Homo sapiens: one gene and its partners. The protein of the gene in region 6 purifies or fractionates together with the protein of the main gene of each other region. This does not show direct contact. Each region holds a gene or a part of one and is shown on either strand. Other genes may lie near its edges.

What was found.
Region 1: the proteins of RMP64 (region 6) and POP4 purify together in Homo sapiens (affinity purification with mass spectrometry; 4 studies listed by BioGRID and IntAct, with this or other methods). This does not show direct contact.
Region 2: the proteins of RMP64 (region 6) and ATP2A2 purify together in Homo sapiens (affinity purification with mass spectrometry, with the first as the bait; one study listed by BioGRID). This does not show direct contact.
Region 3: the proteins of RMP64 (region 6) and YBX1 purify together in Homo sapiens (affinity purification with mass spectrometry, with the first as the bait; one study listed by BioGRID). This does not show direct contact.
Region 4: the proteins of RMP64 (region 6) and UBE2O purify together in Homo sapiens (affinity purification with mass spectrometry, with the first as the bait; one study listed by BioGRID). This does not show direct contact.
Region 5: the proteins of RMP64 (region 6) and RPP40 purify together in Homo sapiens (affinity purification with mass spectrometry; 2 studies listed by BioGRID and IntAct, with this or other methods). This does not show direct contact.
Region 7: the proteins of RMP64 (region 6) and CASP3 purify together in Homo sapiens (co-immunoprecipitation; one large-scale study listed by IntAct). This does not show direct contact.

The regions. Positions count from the first base shown.
Region 1 is NC_000019.10:29,609,283-29,612,782, reverse strand, and holds part of POP4 (ribonuclease P protein subunit p29), read right to left. Parts: intron 2,375-3,500; coding exon 2,151-2,374; intron 922-2,150; coding exon 844-921; intron 667-843; coding exon 605-666; intron 1-604. UniProt on the Homo sapiens protein: Component of ribonuclease P, a ribonucleoprotein complex that generates mature tRNA molecules by cleaving their 5'-ends.
Region 2 is NC_000012.12:110,343,747-110,347,246, forward strand, and holds part of ATP2A2 (sarcoplasmic/endoplasmic reticulum calcium ATPase 2), read left to right. Parts: intron 1-1,139; coding exon 1,140-1,225; intron 1,226-1,502; coding exon 1,503-1,636; intron 1,637-2,254; coding exon 2,255-2,372; intron 2,373-2,454; coding exon 2,455-2,724; 3' UTR 2,725-3,500.
Region 3 is NC_000001.11:42,699,418-42,701,861, reverse strand, and holds part of YBX1 (Y-box-binding protein 1), read right to left. Parts: intron 1,082-2,444; coding exon 847-1,081; 3' UTR 816-846; intron 1-815. UniProt on the Homo sapiens protein: DNA- and RNA-binding protein involved in various processes, such as translational repression, RNA stabilization, mRNA splicing, DNA repair and transcription regulation.
Region 4 is NC_000017.11:76,391,555-76,394,152, forward strand, and holds part of UBE2O ((E3-independent) E2 ubiquitin-conjugating enzyme), read right to left. Parts: intron 560-2,598; coding exon 356-559; intron 260-355; coding exon 202-259; intron 60-201; coding exon 1-59. UniProt on the Homo sapiens protein: E2/E3 hybrid ubiquitin-protein ligase that displays both E2 and E3 ligase activities and mediates monoubiquitination of target proteins. Negatively regulates TRAF6-mediated NF-kappa-B activation independently of its E2 activity.
Region 5 is NC_000006.12:4,997,628-5,001,037, forward strand, and holds part of RPP40 (ribonuclease P protein subunit p40), read right to left. Parts: intron 3,005-3,410; coding exon 2,936-3,004; intron 2,278-2,935; coding exon 2,182-2,277; intron 1,215-2,181; coding exon 1,089-1,214; intron 1-1,088. UniProt on the Homo sapiens protein: Component of ribonuclease P, a ribonucleoprotein complex that generates mature tRNA molecules by cleaving their 5'-ends. Also a component of the MRP ribonuclease complex, which cleaves pre-rRNA sequences.
Region 6 is NC_000003.12:113,009,672-113,013,171, reverse strand, and holds part of RMP64 (nucleolus and neural progenitor protein), read left to right. Parts: intron 1-360; coding exon 361-438; intron 439-1,765; coding exon 1,766-2,127; intron 2,128-2,467; coding exon 2,468-2,529; intron 2,530-3,500. UniProt on the Homo sapiens protein: May play a role in cortex development as part of the Notch signaling pathway. Downstream of Notch may repress the expression of proneural genes and inhibit neuronal differentiation thereby maintaining neural progenitors.
Region 7 is NC_000004.12:184,642,948-184,646,447, reverse strand, and holds part of CASP3 (caspase-3 isoform a preproprotein), read left to right. Parts: intron 1-1,725; exon of another isoform or gene 1,726-1,905; coding exon of another isoform or gene 1,906-1,917; intron 1,918-3,500. UniProt on the Homo sapiens protein: Thiol protease that acts as a major effector caspase involved in the execution phase of apoptosis. Following cleavage and activation by initiator caspases (CASP8, CASP9 and/or CASP10), mediates execution of apoptosis by catalyzing cleavage of many proteins.

The DNA of each region.
Region 1 (3,500 bases), on a different chromosome or scaffold from region 6:
AGGAAAGAAGAAACATAGACACTGTTTAGGTTTTTGGTCTGAACAACCAGTGTAAATAACTGAGTAATTAACTGAGATGGAAAAGACCAGGAGGGGTTGCTGTGAGGAGAATCGGTGGCAGCTTTGGCTATGTAAAGTCTGAGATGCCCCCTGAACATCCAGGTGGCTATGTCAAGTGGGCAGCTGGATGCCTGAGCCTGGAGTTCAGGGGACAGGCCTACGCTGGAGATGTCACCTTGGGGGCTGTCAGGTGTAGCTGACATTTGAAACCACAGCATTGGATGAAAGGGATTCTGTGTTCAAGATCCCAGGCCGTGGGTGAGTGCTCGCAGCCACTGTGCCCTTTAGGGTACCAACAGGGGTCCCTGTGTGGAGAAGGTACACAGAGACCACTTAGGGTGTGTCCAGCAAATGGCCGGACTGGCTAAGACAGCCAGCGAGAAGCATCTCCCACCCTTAGCGTGGGGATGATGGTGACTGGGGGCCATCTCAGGGAATCCACACGGTAAAGAGTGTGTCCAACAGAACACACGCCCTGGGTCTCCACAGAGTGACAGAGTGAACCTCTGGATGGCCATGTGCTACACGCTCTTAGGTAAATTACCTGAAATAATAGCCCCGTGAAGATCTGCCTTTAAGAGCTTGGCCTGAATCATCTGTGGCTGCCTGCAGGGTAAACAGAAGCCCTTGGTTTACATCATGATAAAAAGTTCCAAAAGAAGCAACTAGGTCTTTAACCGTCTGCAGCCAGGCAATACCAACGCTGGTTCCTGAAGCCGCATTTACAATGATCAGAGGCTTGAGATCCACCCCAAAGAGCAAAGCTTCAGGAATGCAACTTACGTGTCTGGCTTGAGCCCACTGCACAGGTCCCTGATGTACTGTTTCCAGAGTTCATGGAGAGGGAGGAAAAGGCTGTATCTGCAGCAAAGTCAGAAACAGGGAAAAAGTTAGACAACATGAGCTTGGGATGACAATGTCCAAATAGCACAGAGCTTGACTTGATGCCAACAACTGCAACCTGGGATCATTAGGAACTATGTGCAAATCCGACGATGAGCAATTGAGCTGATAACCGAGACCAAGAACCTACACCTCTCTAACCTCAGTTTCCTCATTGGTAGGACCACACCAGCCCAGGGCGGTGTCCACCTGGACTTCTTTTCATGAGAGAGAAATAAACGTGAGTCTTGTTGAAGCTACTGTTATTTTGAGGTTTTCTGTTACGTGAAATTGAACCTAGTAAGCCCCCAGTAAAGCAGGGGTTGCTGGTTGTCACGCAGGTCCTCATGTGAGGCAGCAGGCTGGTCTGGAAGGTGGGCAAGCAAGTGGTGGGGAGAAGAAGCGGGGAGCAGGGGCAAGGACCCCAACAGCGTTCTTCTGGGCCATTATCTCCAGTCTTGATATCCTGTGGGGAATCCGTTACCACAAAGCCTTAGGTTAGAGAAATGAGGACCTTAAGCTCAAACCCAACCTGGGCTCCACCCGGGAGGCAAACCCTGGGAGGCAGCAGCCCCTTCTCCACCTGAGGCCCAGCTGATCTCCTGAGTGGGGCCGGGAACAGCATGGCATACTTTAAGCGTCTTCTGGAGCGTGGGAGGCTATTTGGCCGTTGATCTCCAAGCAAAAGCCTACAGACAGCCCCAAGACACCCACACTCAGACCCGTCACCAAGGAGGGATGGCGGGTCGGCTGGAGGAAGACATCCTCCCACAGGACAGGACAGTGATGCATTCCTTTTGGAAACTTCTGAAACGTGTGGGCAACATCTTGCTTTGGCAATGAAACCCGAGTGGGTGACTGTCTGGCTCTATCAAAAGCTACAAAGTAATACACACTAAAAACATATCAGTTCCTCTTTTCTGTCTAACAAAGCCGAAGGACAAACAGCCTGTTGCCATGGGCAACAGATGTACTTGCACGGGTCTTACTCCTGAAGGTGAGGAGAGAGGCCAGACAATGAGTCCTGTCTCACCCGCCTCGCTGAACACAGCCCAGATTGGTAAAGGAAGGCTGCCCTCTTGTGGCAGACGACAGAGAGGCCCCCTTAGCTTAGGTGGAGCCAGGCTGCCTCCCCAGCCACTCAGCCAAGTTCACACACCAAGAAGGGTAAGCACCGCGGGCAGAAAGACGTGGGGAGCTCGGGTTACCTCTGCTGCTCTGGTTTAATGTCAAAGAGCCGCAGCTCCCTCCTTTGCCTGGCAGAGAGGCCTTTGGCTTTCTTCTTCTTCTCCTTGCGCTTGTGGCGGGTGAAGTACTCCAGGACCACCGCCTTGCGCTGCAGCTGGTCCTCGCGGGCCTGCGGGCTCATGCGGGGCGTGCTGCGCTTCAGGAAGGCCCTCACGAAGGCCTCGGCCCGCTGTGCTCCTGAAGGCTGCAGGCGGACAAGGGGGTGCGGCGCTCACTGCTCCGGTCTGGGCAGCCCAGGATCCCAGGCATCCCGCCCGCCATTCCCGGCAGCTACTGCAAGAGCAAATGGGGCCCATCCCTTTACCTACTGAGGCTCTCAACCTGCTCATCCGCCATGCATCTGCTACCCACAGCTGCCGAGATGTAAGTCACACTCACACACCAATTCATGACCGTTTGTCACACACAACAGCGTGTCAAACGCTCACTTCCTGCTCTGGCCCTGCTTTTCTGAGGTTATTCTGAAAGGACCAAAACCTTTCTATCTTGAAGAAGAATTCTCTCATCCTTGGCAGAAGAGAAAGCTTGAGAAATGTATAACAAATATATTCAACCAGGCATGACCAGATGAAAGTGAGCTCAGAGTAGCACTAAGCTATGGAGGAAGTGATCCTAACACTACAGAAAACAGCAAAACTAGGGCTCCAGGGTCGGCCAAGCCTCAGGGCGCAGGGACCCTGACACTGTGCCCTTAGGACAATACTCCTTAACCGGGTTTCCAGCTCTGTGGGCATGGTGTGGCCACTCTCCAAAAGGTCCGCTCCCGCCCCGCAGACCATCACTTGGAGGAAGGTACCGTCGAGAGCATCTCAGGCCCCAGGCTCGCTCTCTCTGAAGGGTGTCACTGAGAGCAGGGCGTCAACTTACCATGAATGAGCACAGGCTCTTAGAGAGGACTTCTGGGAAAAATGACTGTCGTAATTGTGTGCAATTCTCAAACAAACAAACAAACAAACAAACAAACAAAGAAACCCTCCAAGCTCACTACCTCTCAGGTTGGAGTTCCAATAACGGATTCCTCATTTGGTGGCAATGCCACTGCCCTCATGCCTGCCACAGACCTGGGCAGTTCTCTCTCCTGAGGGCCTGTCTCCTGGCTGGGCTGTTTCCTGAGCTCTTTTTGCACTAGCCAGGTGCTAAATGCTAAGACTGAGGCTGACAGACTGATGCTGATCTGTCAATAGTAACGCAGCCTTCCTTCTGTGGGAGAGCAATGGGGATGGGAAGATAGGGTACATATAGCCTTCGAGGGAGCTCACAGTATGATGGTGGGAACTCTGCTTCAGCTTTGCACCTGTAGATGCTAACTA
Region 2 (3,500 bases), on a different chromosome or scaffold from region 6:
TCATAGGTGGGATTTAAATAGATAATTGTCACCAAGTTATAAAATTTAGTCCCTGTTTCCATAAGAGAAGGGTTGCGCAGTGGCTGGTCCCTTTTATATATAAATCATCTCTTTAGCCCTCATCTTCCTCACCCCGGGTTCTTCCCCATTTCATAGATTGGGAAAGTGAGGTGAAATCACTTCCCTGGGATCCCATAGGAAGGCATTGTGTTTTCATAATATATTCACATGACTTCAAATTCAAAAAGCACACAATGGCATAGAATGGAAAGGGTTTGGGCCAGTCACTTCCCTCTGGCGTTGAGGTGCTCATGTACCCTGTGCCCTTCCGGAGAGATTCCAGCATGCTGTGCACACCTGCATGTTGACCCTTGTCTTGCCTTCTTCCTGCTTGTCAGATCCTTCCATATCCGGACATGCGTAGTGCCTCATCCTTGCAGCCAGCGGCCTTCATGCTCCACTGTAATTCGTGGGTTAGTGGGTATATGCACTTGTTGTTTTTGATGCTACCACATGGGGATATTTGCCTCGTCTGAACTCTGTGTATTCTCTGCTGCACCTTGTTGCTTCTTTGCAATAAACTTCCTGAACTCAAAGCTAATACTGGGGGGAATCCCAGAAGCTGCTGAGGGCAGGGCCATGCTGCTCAGTGTTCCACCCTAGCTCCTGACAGCATTTCCCTAGAAAACTGCTGCTGGGCCTCTAATGGAGCAAATAAATCTGTGTACAACTAGGCAGCAATAGTTTGTCCAAAAGTCCTGGTGTAATCTAGTCCCTCAAACTGTGCAGCCTTACATGGAGTACACACACACTTGCAGCCTTGAAGTACTACCCACTGAGGGGAGAAGGCACGGCAAGGGGAAAGGTTGGCACAGGATGGAGCAAGTGCTTTTTCTCACACATTCTGGAGGAAAAGTTATCCAGTTCTTCTGTTCTAGAAACACCCCTGTCCTTCAGAAACCAGGGTCTAGTTGCTCTGGCTACCAGGCGTGAGCAGGTGGTGGTAGCACCACAGGCCCCGGTTACCATCACTGTCCCATGTCTTTGATCTTCGTCCTTGTGGGGACTGGCCTGCATGGCCTCGGTGGCAGCGAGCCCTGCAGAGGCAAGTGCATCAGCATCACTGTGTTTGTTCCCAGGTTACGTCGGCGCTGCTACCGTGGGTGCTGCTGCATGGTGGTTCATTGCTGCTGACGGTGGTCCAAGAGTGTCCTTCTACCAGCTGGTACTCAGTCACCTTTCTTTCTGTACCTTACATGAGAAGTGTTGTGAGGCCTTGACCTTTCTGTGGTTTCGGTATCTATCAAATCATCTTAAGACTCAGACAATAAACAGTTACATCTAAGATGATTCTGAAGGACCAGGGCTTCTCCGAGAAATTGGGGTAAACCTCTTGGCTGGCTCTGCATTCAGGCTGGTCTGTGCTAGGCTTGGTATGGGGTTGGAGCCTGGACTTGGGAAATATACTGGGCTGATAGGAATTTGATTGGATTTTCTTGCAGAGTCATTTCCTACAGTGTAAAGAGGACAACCCGGACTTTGAAGGCGTGGATTGTGCAATCTTTGAATCCCCATACCCGATGACAATGGCGCTCTCTGTTCTAGTAACTATAGAAATGTGTAACGCCCTCAACAGGTTAGTGCACCTTCACGGCAGGCTGAGGCGAGCATGGTGACTGCCAGGGCACCGGGGAATTGTGTGTAGTCACGGTTGATTGAGGATCACAGGACAGTTCTTCCCTTCCCAAAAGAAAGGAGAACAGGCAATACCAGTTTTAAAAGCATGAGCTGTCGTCACCTCCAGGAAGTAGTGGGAGTGCTTAGCCCTGTGTTTCTTAGGAGCTCTTCCTTAAAAGAAACCGTGGGGGCCAAAAATAGGAACTTTGGTACCCCTGTATGCCAGCACCCACAGGGAAGGAACCTCACCCTTTCACACAGACAAATGGTACCATCCAGTTAAGCCCGTGACAAAAATGGAAATTTCTAAATAGCCCAAGTCTCCAGGGCAATTGGGAACAGCTTTGAACCCACTAAGATGGGGTCTGCTATGCCAAAACATAGATACAGAATTCACAGTTTGTCCTGCATTAGGACATTCTCTTCAACTTTGCCACTGTAGAAAGTGGAGGTAGGTCAGCGGATGGTGCCACATTAACAGCCGCCTTACTGAAGTGTAGTCCAACAGGGTCTTACTGCCACTGTGACACGTGCCTTGCCTTGGGGGTGCGTTTCCCCACCTCTCCTTGCTCTGCAGCTTGTCCGAAAACCAGTCCTTGCTGAGGATGCCCCCCTGGGAGAACATCTGGCTCGTGGGCTCCATCTGCCTGTCCATGTCACTCCACTTCCTGATCCTCTATGTCGAACCCTTGCCAGTAAGTGGTTGGGTGGGGCTTGGGACCAGCCACCTCCTTCCAGGGGAGGCTGGAGGCGTGACACGTCTTCCCTGTGTGTCAGCTCATCTTCCAGATCACACCGCTGAACGTGACCCAGTGGCTGATGGTGCTGAAAATCTCCTTGCCCGTGATTCTCATGGATGAGACGCTCAAGTTTGTGGCCCGCAACTACCTGGAACCTGGTAAAGAGTGTGTGCAGCCTGCCACCAAATCCTGCTCGTTCTCGGCATGCACCGATGGGATTTCCTGGCCGTTTGTGCTGCTCATAATGCCCCTGGTGATCTGGGTCTATAGCACAGACACTAACTTTAGCGATATGTTCTGGTCTTGACTGACAGTTTTCCATAAAGAAGATGTTTAACTTAATCAATTAATTTTTTTATTGTTTAAAGCAACTGTCTATTTCTGCTGAATTTTCACATGAACATACTGGCTGGTGATGGAGGTTTCATACTCTAGATTTTGTTTTGCTTTTTCTGACTCCAGTGGGGCAAGATTTTCCTTTTTTATACACATAATTAAAGTGTCCATTGACATGTACAGAGAACTAACACTATTTTATGCAAATATTTTTTTGTAGATGAAAAAGCATGTACAGTGTTCTGTTTAATACTCATCCTTGTATAAAAAAAATAGTTGAGCCAGCAGACATTGTCAGCAAATTAATTGGCAGCAGATTTTAGGAAATGAATGTGTGTGGTTTTTTTTCTAAAACTAAATAGCATGTATTGTGTCTTTTGCATGATGATCCGGATTTAATTTGATATCACAGTCTAATTTTTATTCATAAGCCAATTTTTCTGCACTGAGCAGAGTCTTGCTACCTCAGTCAGTATTGTTTTGGTTTGCTACTTCCCTCACCCACTTTGGCCTCCGTTCACCCCACCCCACCCCACCTCTCCCCACCTTACCCCCGCCCCGCTTGGCTTCTTCTTTAGGATTGTGATGGTTCGTTCTGTTTACATCAGTTTTAACGAGAGGTATGCCTGTACTCGCTTGTGCAGAAAACATTGTTCCAGATTCAATCGACTGGGTTTATGTCCCTTCACATAGTTTTTAAGGTTATTTATTTAAATGTCTAATGTATTTTATTGTAACAGACATTGT
Region 3 (2,444 bases), on a different chromosome or scaffold from region 6:
CAGCAAATAGTAAACGGGAAAAAACCAAAAGCACCACTGGTTGAATGCTAATTTTGGAGGGAACAACAATCACGTACCTCTCGATATCATGTAAAAAGCGAAATGAAAAAGAATCCCTTAATTTTGGAATTAAGGGTAATAAAAACAAGTGAGCTAATGAGCTAAAGTAACAAGAACGTAATTGTATCATGTGGTCTGCCAGAGAATTATTATTATTAATCTACAGGCAGTTTAAATAAACCATGATAAACCACGTGTCATTCTAGGAGTTTTTTAGACACGAAACACTCTCGTCTTTTTCCGGGAACAACATAAACCAACAAAAAAAAAAAACAATTAGAAATGATTAAAAGATTATATTAATGTTGCCACTTTCTCCAAACAGACTCTATTTGTCACCATCTAGGTTAATTCTAACAGCTATCCCCACTTCCTTTTTGAAATAATGCATAAATAATAATGTAATTAACATATTTCTCAGAATACAGCTAGCAAAACTTTCCTCTGTTTACTAGTGAAATCATAAAATTCATTCAGAAAAGTTGATAGAAAGCACTAATAGTTCAAAATACTCATGAAAATACAGGTCTCCAGTGTCAGAATTGAGAACTAGCTGAAGGGTGGCCAAATATGACTCTGATATTCAATATTCCTAAAATGAAATATTAGGTAATTAAGAATAGGGCAGAACACATTATAAATAACATGGCTTTCATTATCTGATGGAACTGAGGTTTTTCTACTCTTGCATTAATAAAACGAAATGGTCACCACTCACGACTGCCATAAATGGATGGCCATCCAAGCTTGCTTACCCGGATGATGGTAGAGATGGTAAGCCGGCATTTACTCAGCCCCGCCCTGCTCAGCCTCGGGAGCGGACGAATTCTCAGCTGGTGGATCGGCTGCTTTTGTCTCTTTGCCATCTTGTGGTTTAGGGTTTTCTGGGCGTCTGCGTCGGTAATTGAAGTTGCGGCGGTACCGACGTTGAGGTGGCTGCTGACCTTGGGTCTCATCTCCTTGATTTTCTTTATCTTCTTCATTGCCGTCCTCTCTAGGCTGTCTTTGGCGAGGAGGGCCCCTGCAATGAACGGTGTCAAACTTAAGAATGATAAAACCTTCTCTCTTCAACACACCCACCAGTGTAACCAGTTGGTTCACAACTAACTCACCATGTCTGGCCCATTCTGTATCAAGTGGTCTGTAGGCAATTTGTGTAAAGAGATGGGTTTTTTTTTTTGGGGGGGGGGGGATGCTGAGTAGGGGGAAGAGTCTTGCTTTGTTGCCCAGACTAAAGTGCCATGGAATGATGACAGCTCACTGTGGCCTCAATCTCCCAGGCTCAAGTGATCTTCCCACCTCAGACTCCTGAGTAACTGGGACTATAGGCAAGCCCCCCACGTCTCATTAATGTCTGATTTTTAGTAGCGATGTGTTGCTATGTTTCCAAGGCTGGTCTTGAATTCCTGACCTCAAGCTATCCTCCCTCCTTGGCCTCCCAAAGAGTGCTGGGATTACAGGCTTGAGTCTTTTAATCACCAAGATAAAGATACTAAATTTTGGGATTTTCTTTCCCCCAGTGCTCAGAAATGATGGATTCCTGGCCTTTCCTCTGCCCATACTCTGAGCACTCCAGAAAGCCCCAGGCCTTTAGTATCCATGAGTCATCATGGGAATAAATTCACATTTACCTTTGTACATTCTAAAACTCTTTCCCCACATCTTTTGGAACTCATGATGAATCTTCAACAAAATTGTTCTGACTTTTCTCTGCAACCCTACAGTGGTGACTGTTCTAACCTTATTGTGGCTTCTAAATCAACTCTCCCAGTTTCTAAAAACTAGGCTTTCCATCTTATTTTGGATTCTGCTCCATTTACTATCTTTTTCTTACTGCAGTTATTACTAAGGTTCGAGTGTAACAGCTTCTAATAACCTGGGCTTTCAGACTGACCTCCCAGTCCAGCTGTTTTCTACCTGGGTTTTTTCAATTATACCACTCAACTTTCCAATTATGTACCTTCCTATTTTTCTTAGGTAATTCCTTATTGTTTTCTCATTCTTAATCTAGGACCTGTAATACAGCGATTCTATCACCTATTCATCTCACTCCAAGGTTGGGCACAGTGGCTCACACCTGTAATCCTAGCACTTGGGGAGGATCACTTGAGGGCAGGAGTTCAAGACTGCTTGAGTAACACAGTGCAACTCCATTTCTACAAAACAATTTAAAAAAAAAAAAACAACCCTCATTTTCCCCTTTTCTCCCCTCTTTATCCAAGTATAAAGTCTACCACTAATCATATGACCAATCCCTACCCCAGTGTCTTCATCTGGATAAACCAGATCTGGATAAATCAAACCAGATCTGGATAAACCAAATCTGGATAAATCCAACTCTCTGCCCAACCTGAGCCTGATGCCCAAATGGCTAGAAACACAGA
Region 4 (2,598 bases), on a different chromosome or scaffold from region 6:
GCCTCGGTCACTGTCGAAGCCGGCTTCGTTGTAGTATGGTTCATTTACCAGGATCAGACCTGTGTGGGCGGGACACCTTCCCTCAGTGGGTGAGAGAGGCCCACAATGCAGGCCTACCCTCCACCTGCCAGGGGGACTATCAGAGTCACTTTCCTCCACCGGCCCTCCCTTGTCCGCACCCCCGCTTCAGCCCAACTGTACCTTGGATGGAGATGAGCACCTGGAGAAGGCTGGACTTGCTTGTCCACCTCTCTGTCCCCTGAAACACACAGGGCACCATCAATTCTGTTCCCCAGGCCCCTATCCACCAGTGGCTCTTCCTCCTTCTTGGCTGGGGGCCTGGCCCTATACTCACCTTTCCAATCCAGGTGCCCAGGAGGCTGACACACACCTTCCCATTGTCATACAGGTTGGGGTTCAGGCGGCCACTGCATTGGGAGAGGTAGCAGAAGTGGGGGGGCACGGCTGGGTAGATGTTGGGGAGCTGGATGTCAAACAAGTAGAGGCCATCCTCGTAGGGGGTTCGAGTGGGGCCCTTGATGAGAGCTGAGAAGAGGTCCTAGGTAGGGAGGGAGGGAGGGAGGCCAAGGTTGGCAGGGGTGGAAGGGGGTGTCCTACATGTGGCATCTGCATCTGCACCTGCTCTTTCCCAGGACACTGTGCAGATCACGCAGGAAGAGCAGCACCTGGGACTCCAGATGCCACCAGCAGTGGAGAAGCTAAGGACAAATCTCTCTCTGCAGAACAGCCTGGAATCTTTTTTTTTTGAGACAGGGTCTTGCTGTGTCCCCCAGGCTGGAGTACACTAGTGCAATAATGGCTCACTGCAGCCTCCCAAGTAGCCGGGACTACAGTGTGGGCCACCGTGCCCAGATGATTTTTTTATTTTGTGTACAGACAGGGTTTCACTATGTTGCCTAGGTTGGTCTCGAACTCCTGGGCTCAAGTGATCCGCCTGCCTCGGCCTCCCAAAGTGCTGGGTTTACAGCCCTGAGCCGTCACTGTGCCTGGCCCTTGCCTGGAATCATTGAACCCTGGCTAAGAGAAATACTCGAAGTGAGTTTTTATCTTATCAGGTGTTTTTCCTCATAAATCATTACTTTAAGACTGTATTCCAGCTGGGCGCGGTGGTTCGTGCCTGTAATCCCAGCACTTTGGGAGGCCGAGACGGGTGGATCACTTAAGGTCAGGAGTTCAAGAGCAGTCTGGCCAACGTGGTGAAACCCCGTCTCTACTAAAAATACAAAAATTAGCCAGGCGTGGTGATGCATGCCTGCAGTCCCAGCTACTCGGGAGGCTGAGGTGGGAGAATTGCTTCAACCCGGAGGCGGAGGTTGCAGTGAGCCGAGATTGTGCCATTGAACTCTAGCCTGGGTGACAGTGCGACGCTATCTCAAAAAAAAAAAAAGATTGTATTCCTCAGCCAGACGTGATGGCTCACACCTGTAATCCCAGCACTTTTGGGAGGCCAAGGTGGGAGGACTGCTTGAGGCCAGGAGGTCAAAACCAACCTGGGCAACATAGTGGGACCCTATCTCTACAAAAAATAAAAAATTAGCTGGGCATGGTGGTGCATACCTACAGTCCCAGCTACTCAAAAAGCTTAGATGGGAGGATCACTTGACTCCAGGAGGCTGAGGCTGCAGTGAGCTATGATCACACCACTGCACTCCAGCCTGGGCGACAGAGTGAGACCCTGTCTTTTATTTTTTGGCTTATGTGTTTTTTTGAGATGGAGTATAGCTCTGTCCCCAGGCTGGAGTGCAGTGGTGTGATCTTGGCTCACTGCAACCTCTGCCTCCCAGGTTCAAGCGATTCTCTGCTTCAGTCTCCTCACGCCCGGCTAATTTTTTGTATTTTAATAGAGACGGGGTTTCACCATGTTGGTCAGGCTGGTCTCGAACTCCTGACCTTGTGATCCGCCCACCTTGGCCTCCCAAAGTGCTGGGATTACAGGCGTGAGCCACCACGCCCGGCCAACCCTGTCTTTTAAAAACAAAACAAAACAATTCCTCTAAACACCTGCTCCAACCCTTATCCCCAACAAGGCAAGTAGTACAAGCAGTTTCAAGCTGAAAGGCAGTTCCAGGCTGGTGAGGCCTGGGGAAGGGGGGATGGTCTCACAACCAGAAGCTGACAGTGAGGGTTTGAACTCCATGGGGGAGGTTGGGAGACCACCGCTCCACAGACATCTGGAATCTGTGCATCTATTTGCGTGCATCTGTGCACACACGCGTGTGTGTGGGATCTCAACTGACAGGGCAATGGGCGAGGTCAGTGATGAGCTGAGAAGCAGGGAAGGCAGAGCGCTAGCTGGGGCGAGGGAACCTCTGCACATGCTCTTATCGGTGCCACCCTGGGAGCCTCCAGGGAATGCACTACTTTTCTTCTCCTGAGTGAGATGTGGGGAAAACAGAACAAAACAAAAAATACTGTTTCCATCTTCCCTCAGCAGAGCTGAGACAGGCTAGAATTTTCAAAAGGAATTTTCCTACAACCCAAGAAAAAACCAAAAGCGTTATTAAGAATCTCAAGCAGCACTGGGCCTTAGGACTCTGCCTAGCCCTGTTCCAGGGTTGTGGCTACTCCGGGCCCATC
Region 5 (3,410 bases), on a different chromosome or scaffold from region 6:
CCCTAATAAATCTCCTCTCATCCATCCATCCATCCATCCATCCATCCTATTGGTCCTTTCTCTCTGGAGAACCCTGACTAATACATTTTGGCTACTACCATTCCTCTGAGGAATTAAGTCCTGTGTCTCTGACCCAGGGCTTATGTGTCTTCTGCCAGCATCCCTGAGACTGTAGCAGGCTACCTAGTTAGCCTGCAAGTATGAGGAAATCTCAGAACTTTCACAGTCCTGACAAATCCTTAAAATAGTTAGGAGCTTTAGGAATAGGGAGCTATCCAGAATCCAACGTCTGGATGATCTGCATAGAAGACTTCACGCAACTGAAACTTCAATAAGCCTTTCTGCCCTCTTTTCTATCTACCATATATGGAAGGAGAGGCACCGAAGGCCAGACCTAGGACTCATGGGAGCAACTTGGAGCACCCAGTGACGAGACACTTCCCATGAGGAGCAGACAGATGGGGCTATTTCTAAAACAGACCACCATGCTTCCTATCCTCCAAAAGAGAGTACTACACCATAATTCCTGATGACTTGATCCATTATTATCTGGGTCAAAGATACACTTCTAAAAGGAGCAACATACATGGCCGTTTTAGGCAGATTACGCTGTGTGGTGAATAGCAAACTTTGAACTAAATTTAGTGTCCTAATCAATTAAAAGTTAGAATAAATTCATCTGACATTTAATGGTAGGCCTGAGTCAGTACCCTGTGATAATAAATAAGCAGATTGTGTATATAATTGGTGCTACTTAAAAATATTATAGTCAAGGCTGTTCAAGGTAAGCTGGAGAGAGGAAAGGGGAGAAATAGATAAAATTTAGCTGCTCTGAAGCCACTCTCAAGATCTCTGGATCTACATATAACCCAAAGAGACGCAGGCAGAAAGGCCTGCGTGCCTACATGATCCTGAACTATGGTTTTCAGAGATGTCAGAAGGGCTAGTTTCCTTAATAATATTTTTATATATACGTATAGAATATTCCTTGACTAAAGAGTGAATCACCATTCAATCCTCCATTACTCCTCTTTAATTAACAATTACTTTCAAAATCACTGTATCATTACATAATTTATTCCTCATACCTGTTTTATGCCAAGCCAAAAGAAAATCAAATTTCAATGGCTTCTTTTCTTTGAAAGACCAAGATATTCTTTCATACTTCTTAGAATCCAAGTTTAAGGATAATTCCATCAAATCAATGGAAACAACTTTAAAAATGAAAAAAAGAACATATATTTCATTCATATACGTACAGCTTCTACCATGGAAAAAGTGTTACATTTTTAAAAACTAGAATTTTGGGAAATTTTATGGATAGTAAAATTATTTTATTCTTCTTCCACTCCCTTTGGTTTGCCAAATAAATAAGATCCCTTTGGTGGGCACTTCTAACCTTGAGAGCTAATAAAAACAGACATTTTCAATTTATATGTTTCCTAGGTCAAAGACCAAGGGCAGAGGACCTTGAGAGGTCAGGTTTAATCTACTTATGGATGTGGCGGCCTTAGCTATTGATGTTCGAGCCAGACGCTGTCAGCAAAACATCTCTTCACTCATGGGTGAATTTCTACTAGTAATCATAAAGACTTGGGGAAACCAAAGGAAATTCTTTATTAAGAATAAGTTGTAGACTCCTATCTTGGGTTCAGTACTTGGAATTTTTTTTTTTTTTTTTTTTTTTTTTGAGATGGACTCTCACTCTGTCGCCAGGCTGAAGTGCAGTGGTGCGATCTTGGCTCACTGCAAACTCCCCCTCCCGGGTTCAAGCAATTCTCCTGCCTCAGCCTCCTGAGTAGCTGGGACTACAGGCATGCGCCACCACGCCCAGCTAATTTTTGCATTTTTAGCAGAGATGGGGTTTCGCCATGTTGGTCACAATGGTCTCAATCTCTTGACCTCATGATCCGCCCGCCTTGGCCTGCCAAGGTTTAACCCGAAACATATATATTTAATTGACCAGTCCAAGTCTACAATCTTTATTAAATGCATCTACAGCTGAAAAGAAATGAACTTAAAAGCATCATCCTATCCTCTGTGAAGCTCGAGTCAGAAGTTTGACAGATTTTTTTTAAAAGGCCACATTTTTTTGAACAAAGAGATTAGAGGCAATTCAAACATTTAAATTTAAATTGCCACAAGAAGATTAGAAACAGATGGAACACACATGATACTTACTAAATTTCATAATTTTTCTGCCAGAAAACTGAGATGGATGACCCTGAAGTCCAGTTTCTTCATAAGTGTCTTTATCCAGTGACAAAATTAATTTCCCTATAAATCAAATAATAACTCCCATAAGATACCAAAACTAGAACTTACGTTGTCTGACTAAAAGAAAGCAAGGCAAATTGAGCAGTTAGATATCAATGTAACAAACTGCATACAAGGATCTTATTTATATCACAAGAATATTATTTATGTGTATACATGTCTTGTAACAGATATTATTTATACATTATACATCCAAGGATATTATTTATAATAGTGAAATTTAAAATAATCTGAATTTCTACTAAAGATGAAATAAATAAGTCATGGTATACTCATTCTTTTGAATATCTTCTTTTTTTTTTTCAGACAATCTCATTCTGTCTCCCAGGCTGGAGCGCAGTGGCGCAATCTTGGCTCACTGCAACCTCCGCCTCCCAGGTTCAAAGCGATTCTCCTGCCTCAGCCTCCCAAGGAGCTGGGACTACAGGCATGAGCCACCACGCCGGCTAATTTTTGTATTTTTAGTAGAGGCAGGGTTTCACCATGTTGGCCAGGCTGGTCTCGAACTCCTGACCTCAGGTGATACACCTGCTTTGGCCTCCCAAAGTGCAGGGATTACAGGCGTGAGCCACCGTGCCCAGCTGACTTTTTTTTTTTTTTTTTTACAGTATGCATTTTTTTTTAACAATTAAAGAAAGATGAAAAAATAAAGTGTTACCATTTGGTAGCAGGGCAACAGTATTATCTTCATCAATATGTGTATTGTATGTTAGTGCATAGCAAGAACCTGGAAGAGAAAGTACAGAGGAAAAATTTAAAACAAGAAATTACACCTGCAAGATGTTAGTGGATTATTTTTACAAGATAACCAGTCTTCCGGGTCATTAAAGGTCAGTTTCTACCCCTGCTCCAGCTCACTCAATAAACCAAACATCTGCTAAGGGTAAGCTGCAGCATGCAGAAGACCAAGCATGCAGAAGACCAAGCATGCAGAAGACCAAGCATGCAGAAGACCAAGCATGCAGAAGACAAAGCTTGCAGAAGACCAAGCATGCAGAAGACCAAGCATGCAGAAGACCAAGCATGCAGAAGAACAAGCATGCAGAAGACCAAGCATGCAGAAGACCAAGCATGCAGAAGACCAAGCTTGCAGAAGACCAAGCTCCAGCTAGTTCACTCCCTGACCAACAGCC
Region 6 (3,500 bases):
CAACCTACAGGAATTCTTAAACTTTTGCTTCTTGGCCTCCTTTTCTCAGGAATTGCCTGATGCAGCCATTGCCAGAGACTGCCTGTCACTGTTCAGCACGTATTATCCTAAGAGCATTGATAGCTAGAAATTCTTAATCTTAGAAACTAAACTTTAAGAACTAAATTTAATAATGGGAACTCTAGCAGAGTGTTTATAACCATATTTTAAAGTTTTAAATTCTTAAATAGAATGTGTTTTAAGGCTTTAATACCTTTAAGAAAATTCTCTTTACTTCCAATATATTTCTTCATTCATGATTGTAACTTACAAAACCCACATTACTTTGATTTTGTTTTCTACCTTAAATTGATTTTCCAGTTTGACTGTGAAACATCTAGGTTTGCAAGAGTTCATTATTTTAAACCTTGTGATGGTTGGGCTGGTGAGCAGGTTATGGTATGTACATACCTCTGACATCCTTCATTTCTTTCTCATCTCCTTTCAGCCTAGGTTTCTTATTAGTAGTTTTCAAACTTATTTTCTTATGGGGTTATGGAAGGTGCAGGTATTCTCTTTCTTGGTTTGATCAGAGTTTTTTGAGGGTAGATTGGGAAGCCGAGTGCTGATGGCTGTATCAAAGGAGTAGGCTTTGTATCTCAATCCACAAGATCAGCCCAATCACTGAACAACTAAAAAAATCGGGAGTGACTGGTGTCACACTGAAATCTGGGTCATGGTAGGTTGTAGTGAAACATCAGTGGGCTTTTACTGAACATTAAAAAAATTAATGCCTGTGACTGGGAATTGCAGTAATAAAAAATTGTTGGTAGTAGTCATATTGCAACAGGCCGTTTAAAATGATGCTAATCCTGGGCTGGCTGTATCACTTGATTCTTTCTGTCACTCGGTTTCTAATTTTTAATGGCAATGATAAATGCAATTTTTGACCTTCTTATGTGCTAGACTATTTTCTTCCATCTCAAACACCACTGCTTTTTTGAGCATATTTAGTTGATGTATGCTGGTAATACTTGGAAACTAAAGAGACATCTCTTTCATGTCTCTCAGTACATATTGTGAAACTGATCTGATGGATAATTAGAATTTGCCCGTATCTGTAAGAAGGCCTGTTTTGGGCCATTTCAAACAATTAAGATTATTAGTTCTAATATGAATGTAAGAAAACATTGGATGGAGAAAAGAAAAAAAGTTTCTGTGTTTAGAGATTGAAAACCTTGCTTTGATATCTTAACCTGGATATCTCAAATAGTATTTCCTATTGTTTTATTTTTTATTCTACTTATTCTTAATCAGAGGTAACAATGTTTGATTACTAATCATATTATTTTAAAATGCTAAACCTTTGATACTCTCTTCTGTAATGAAAATAGCTTTAATTTTTGCTGATTATAATACATGCCTGTTTTAAGAAATTTAAAAAGAGAAATGTGAAGAACCTGAAATTTGCCTAAAATCTCACCATCTACCACACTTAAAACTTTGATATGCATCCTTTTGTACATTTCTCCATGTAGTACTTTTTGAATATATATATATCTTTCCTGGTAGACTGTCTTACAGTTTTTTGAGTAACATTTTATACTTGGATTTTTCTGTTGGGTTGGACTAATCTGGCTGTTCGCAAGTGTGCACTATAGTGTTTTTTATCTGTACTGGAGGACCTTGATAGCCATTTATTTTCAGCTTTCAATCTTGCAGTTTATTATGTAATCTGCAAATTGTAATTACTGGCTAATTAATGAGCTCCTATTTCTTTCTCTAGGGTTCTCTATAAAGGTGTCTTAAAAAGGTTGATTTTGTTATATGAGCCTTTGTTTGGATTGCTTCAAGAGGTCGCTAGGATTCAACCAATGCCTTACTTCAAAGATTTTACCTTTCCTTCTGATATCACTGAATTTTTAGGACAGCCATATTTTGAAGCCTTTAAGAAAAAAATGCCTATAGCTTTTGCAGCTAAAGGAATAAATAAATTGCTAAATAAACTGTTTTTAATAAATGAGCAGTCACCAAGAGCCAGTGAAGAAACCTTGCTTGGAATTTCAAAAAAAGCTAAACAAATGAAGATCAATGTACAGAATAATGTGGATCTTGGACAGCCAGTAAAGAATAAGAGAGTCTTCAAAGGTAATTTGCTTTGATACAGCACATACTCTAGTAAAACAAAAAACAAATAAAAAGAAACCTTTTGAAAGTAATAGTCATGCATTGCATAGAAAGAAATTCAACATCTCACATCTTAATTTTGACTCATATTGATTAGAGAGGTATGGTAATACCTGTGCTTTCTAAGCTTGAGTACTTTAAGTTGTTTATTTGTTTCTGTAGTTGCTTCCTAGTTATTTGCTTGCTTTATTCCTTTATTTTGTGGTAATTTGGCAAGAAATGTCATGCACTTAAGAATTTGTTGTAGATTTGAAAATAGTATGCCTAAGGTTTTGTATCTGCAATTTTTCCACCTCCACAGAAGAGTCATCAGAATTTGATGTGAGGGCTTTCTGCAACCAGCTGAAACACAAAGCTACTCAGGTTTGTCTGGCTTCATTAAATTTAGCTTATGATTTCTGCTAATTTGTAGAGGATGCTTCTTACCAAGGGCAGAGATTGAATCTTTTCATTTTATCCCCAGCTCTAAGCTTAGTGCCTTCTTAGTTGTCAGTGTGTGCTTCTGAATGAATAGAGGCAAGGGATTTTTAATACATCTAGTTAATTCAGTTAATAGAGTACCTTCAGAAATATTTTAGTAGGAGTTTCTCTAGAATTTTAAAGTAACCGTAAGATCTGTTGTTAAGTATGGATTGTACTGCAGCTTAAGAGTATAGGCTTTGCAGTCAGACAGTTGGTTTGAATCCTGGCTTTGGTACTAGCTGTGTGACCTTCTGTGAGTTTCCTGATCTCTCCGTACCTCTATTTTGTAATAGTAATATGTGCCTCATAGGGTTGTGCTAGTTTTAATGCATGTAAAGCGTTCGGTAGTCTGGAGTATGGTAAGCATTTAATTGGAGTTAGATGTTATTAGCTACGGTCATTTTGGTCATCATCCTCATCATTTTGTCATGAAGCTATTCCTTTACTCCTGTTGAGGTTCAAGTTTTAACATGATTGATTAATGTCTGTAAATTCTGTTTGTTCTGGACCTAACAGCATATAAGTACATCGGCATTACTGTTTTACTCAGTAACTTGACTTTTTTTTTTTTTTAACCCTGTCTTTGCAAAATGTCTACTTCTGGTATTTTTCATGGGTTAGTTTACTTCTTTTATTTAAGAATTCTTAAACATATTTTCTTGAACTTAAGGACTCCAGCTTCCATTGATGTTCTGTCCAATTTATGAATTCAGAGTGAGGAGTAATACTTTCTGTGCCAGGCATTGTTCTAAGTGCTTTTATATGCATGAAGTCATGTAATTATATCACAAAAGCTCTGTGAGGTGGGCATGCTTATTACTGTTTTCATATTTCAGATGAGGAAACTGAGGCATAGAAAGGCCAAGAAACTG
Region 7 (3,500 bases), on a different chromosome or scaffold from region 6:
TAGTGGAGAGTGCTCTGTACTGTCTTCCTGGTCACGTGGCCCTTGCCAGAGGAAAGGAAAGGATGGTTTGTTTGTATAGTACAATGGAACTTATTTCAATGTATTCTGTATTTGATTTTACATTCCTGTTCTCATATTTTTACCTTAATTACATAACAAATATTAAAAGATTGACTTCACCAGGCCCAGTTACAATCGCCAGTTTGATAATTCTTATACGTACTCAAATGAATTCAGAGACCAGATGGGAAAAGATTTTGATAAAACCTCTGGTACATCACAACTGAAGTCTTTTCTTGTCCAAACTATTGTGAAACAGATGTTCTTTCTGTTTCATTTGCTAAATCTGGAAACGTGACTGCTTTTGAGACTTTGTCCTCTCTGACAGGTAATAAATATAATCCTGATATTTTTCAAGTTGTTTGACAGAAGTGTAATCTCCCCAGAAGTCCTGCTGGACAGGCTTCACTTTTCCTTTGGAGGAACACAGAGATACAGGGAATATGTTTTAATGACATATACCTAACGCTGAACATGAAACCAGTTATTTTACTTTTATTATTATTATTTTTAGAAACAGCCTTGCTGTGTCACCCAAGCTCAAGTGCAGTGGTGCGATCATAGCTCACTGCAGCCTCCAATTCCTATGCTCAAGTAATCCTCTTGCCTCAGCCTCCTGAGTAGCTGGGACTACAGGTGTGTGCCACCATGCCAGGCTACTTGTTTTTACTTTGTTATAGAGATGGGGTCTCTCTGTGTTGCCCAGACTGGTCTTGAACACATGATCTCAACCATTCCTCCCACCTTGGCCTCCCAAAGTGCTGGGATTACAGGCGCGAGCCACTGTGTCTGGCCTATTTCACTTTAGAAGTAAATTGAATGCCACATGCGAAGTTTGTTAAATTTTTTTAAAAAAGGAAAGAAAACACAAAAGTAAACTACCTAGTCGCATCAGAAATGCCATAGTCATTTTTGCCATTTTTTCATTCATTAGAATTCAGTGCATTATGTTATTTTGTTATCTCTGCAGTAACTTTCTATCATGTTATTTATTTTCTTTGTCTTATTTAAAGCTTCTGAGATTATGGATTTTTGTTTCCTTCCCTGAAGTTAAGTGTTATCATTCCTATATAGTACTAAGCTGTCTACAGAATAGTGGGAGTCTGCCCTCTTGAGTTGGGAAGATCCTAGTTTGAATCTTGGCTGTGCGACTTTAAAGTTCATTAACTTCTCTTAGCCTCAGTCACCTGAACTCTGCAGTGGGGATCCTTATGCCTCAGAGTGTCATTGGGAGGACTCACGAAAATACGCTTGTACTTTGAGTTCAGTACCTAGCCTGTATGAGCCAGCATTAAGAGGGACAGTCATCACGCAGCGCTTTGCACACAGCTCTCACGCCACATCCTTTGGCTACTGTTTTGGTAAATCTTTACTAGTAAATGTTTCTTAAAAGCATTTACATTCATGGACATGATTCAGAAACTAACAGTTGTTTTTTAGGTCTCACTTTGAGATTTAAAAACCCTTAGGGCAGAGACCAGATTTTATTTCTTACCTCAGAGTTTCCCTGTAGGACAGGAACCAGCAACAGCCTAATGAGCTGATTAAGAATTTTAGAGATTTAAAATTTAAATTAGGATTGCCAGTTTTAGAGACTGGCACATAAATGTTTTCATTTAAGGCAGTGACTGTTTCCTTTAGGATATGATTTTTTATCTTTCTAAGATGAGATCACCATCCTCAGAATAATTTGTACCCCGCTGGGCACTAGCTAATGGAGGTGATGTCATGCTAAGCAGCACTTCAGTGAGTTTTGCGGGAACCAAAGCTCTGCTCCCAGGAGTGTGGATTTGGTGCTTTCATGTGGAAAAAGCGGATGATGACAAGTAGAGAGCAAATGTGCGCATGTCTGATGCTGTAAGGATTTCCTTTACCATCATATAAATTTTTAAAGTATATCAAAATAAACTGATAACTGAGAAAATATATGTTGTTCAGATACTAATAATGAAGTTAATGAAGTCCACTATAGTATTTGTCCCTGAGAAATCTTTATCAAATATTTTAAATCCTATTGTAAAATAATGTATTTTTTCTTTCAGTTTTAGAGACTGGCAATCCTAATTTAACATCTCCTTTTGAATTCCCCACCACAGGCACACTTTCACACATTCACTCTTTAATAACAGGTTGTTTCAAATTGTTAATACTTTATAGCTTAATATAGAAATTTCACTTTAGAAATTAATTTTTATTTCTCTGCCTTAATGCTATAGATGTTGTAGTCTGCTTTACTTCAGTATTGTAATGAGTAGTTGGCTAACCACCATGTAAATAGGGAGAACATTCTAGTTTTTTACTTGTGTAGGAAAACACAGCTTGAAATGTCTAAGTATCTATTTTAGAGTGAAGTAAATTTATACTGACAATATTTTTTTGTGTTTGAAGACCTGACTGTTACAGCGTTGGTGGCAAGTGTTAAGGGATCCAGGAACTAGACAAGTGATTCTGAGACCTGAGTTCCAGGTTTCTAAGTAATATCAGTTGGTCTACTGAGAACTTTGCCATAAACATATGTGTTCAGAAATTTCCTTTCTTAGCAGCAGCATCCTGAATTGAACAGAATTACACACACATCAGCCCAGTAAGAAACAATTCATGTTAAGTCCATTGCTATGCCAGGATAAATCTTTTAAATCACAATTATTTTTCCTATTTATATTTTGTCAAATAAGAATGTTCTAAAAACCAAAATTTCTGTTTTCTTTTTTTTTTTTTTTTTTTTTTGAGACGGAGTCTCACTCTGTCGCCCAGGCTGGAGTGCAGTGGCGCGATCTCGGCTCACGGCAAGCTCCACCTCCCGGGTTCACGCCATTCTCCTGCCTCAGCCTCCTGAGTAGCTGGGACTACAGGCACCCACCACCACGCCTGGCTAATTTTTTATATTTTTAGTAGAGACGGGGTTTCACCGTGTTAGCCAGGATGGTCTTGATCTCCCGAACTTGTGATCCGCCCGCCTCGGCCTCCCAAAGTGCTGGGATTACAGGCAAAATTTCTGTTTTCATTTAAGGCAGTGACTATTTCCCTTAGGATGTGATTTTTTTATCCTTCTAAGATGAGATCACCATCCTCAGAATAATTTGTACCCTGCTGGGCACTAGCTAATGGAGGTGATGTCATGCTAAGCAGCACTTCAGTGAGTTTTGCGGGAACCAAAGCTCTGCTCCCAGGAGTGTGGATTTGGTGCTTTCATGTGGAAAAAGCGGATGATGACAAGTAGAGAGCAAATGTGCGCATGTCTGATGCTGTAAGGATTTCATCTACCATCATATAAATTTTTAGAAGTATATCAAAATAAACTGATAACTGAGGCAATGTATGTTGTTCAGATACTAATAATGAAGTTAATGAAGTCCACTATAGTATTTGTATAGTATTTGTATATTACAGTACTCTGAAAAGCTGGTCACTATTTAAAGTTTCCATTACCAGTCACAAGG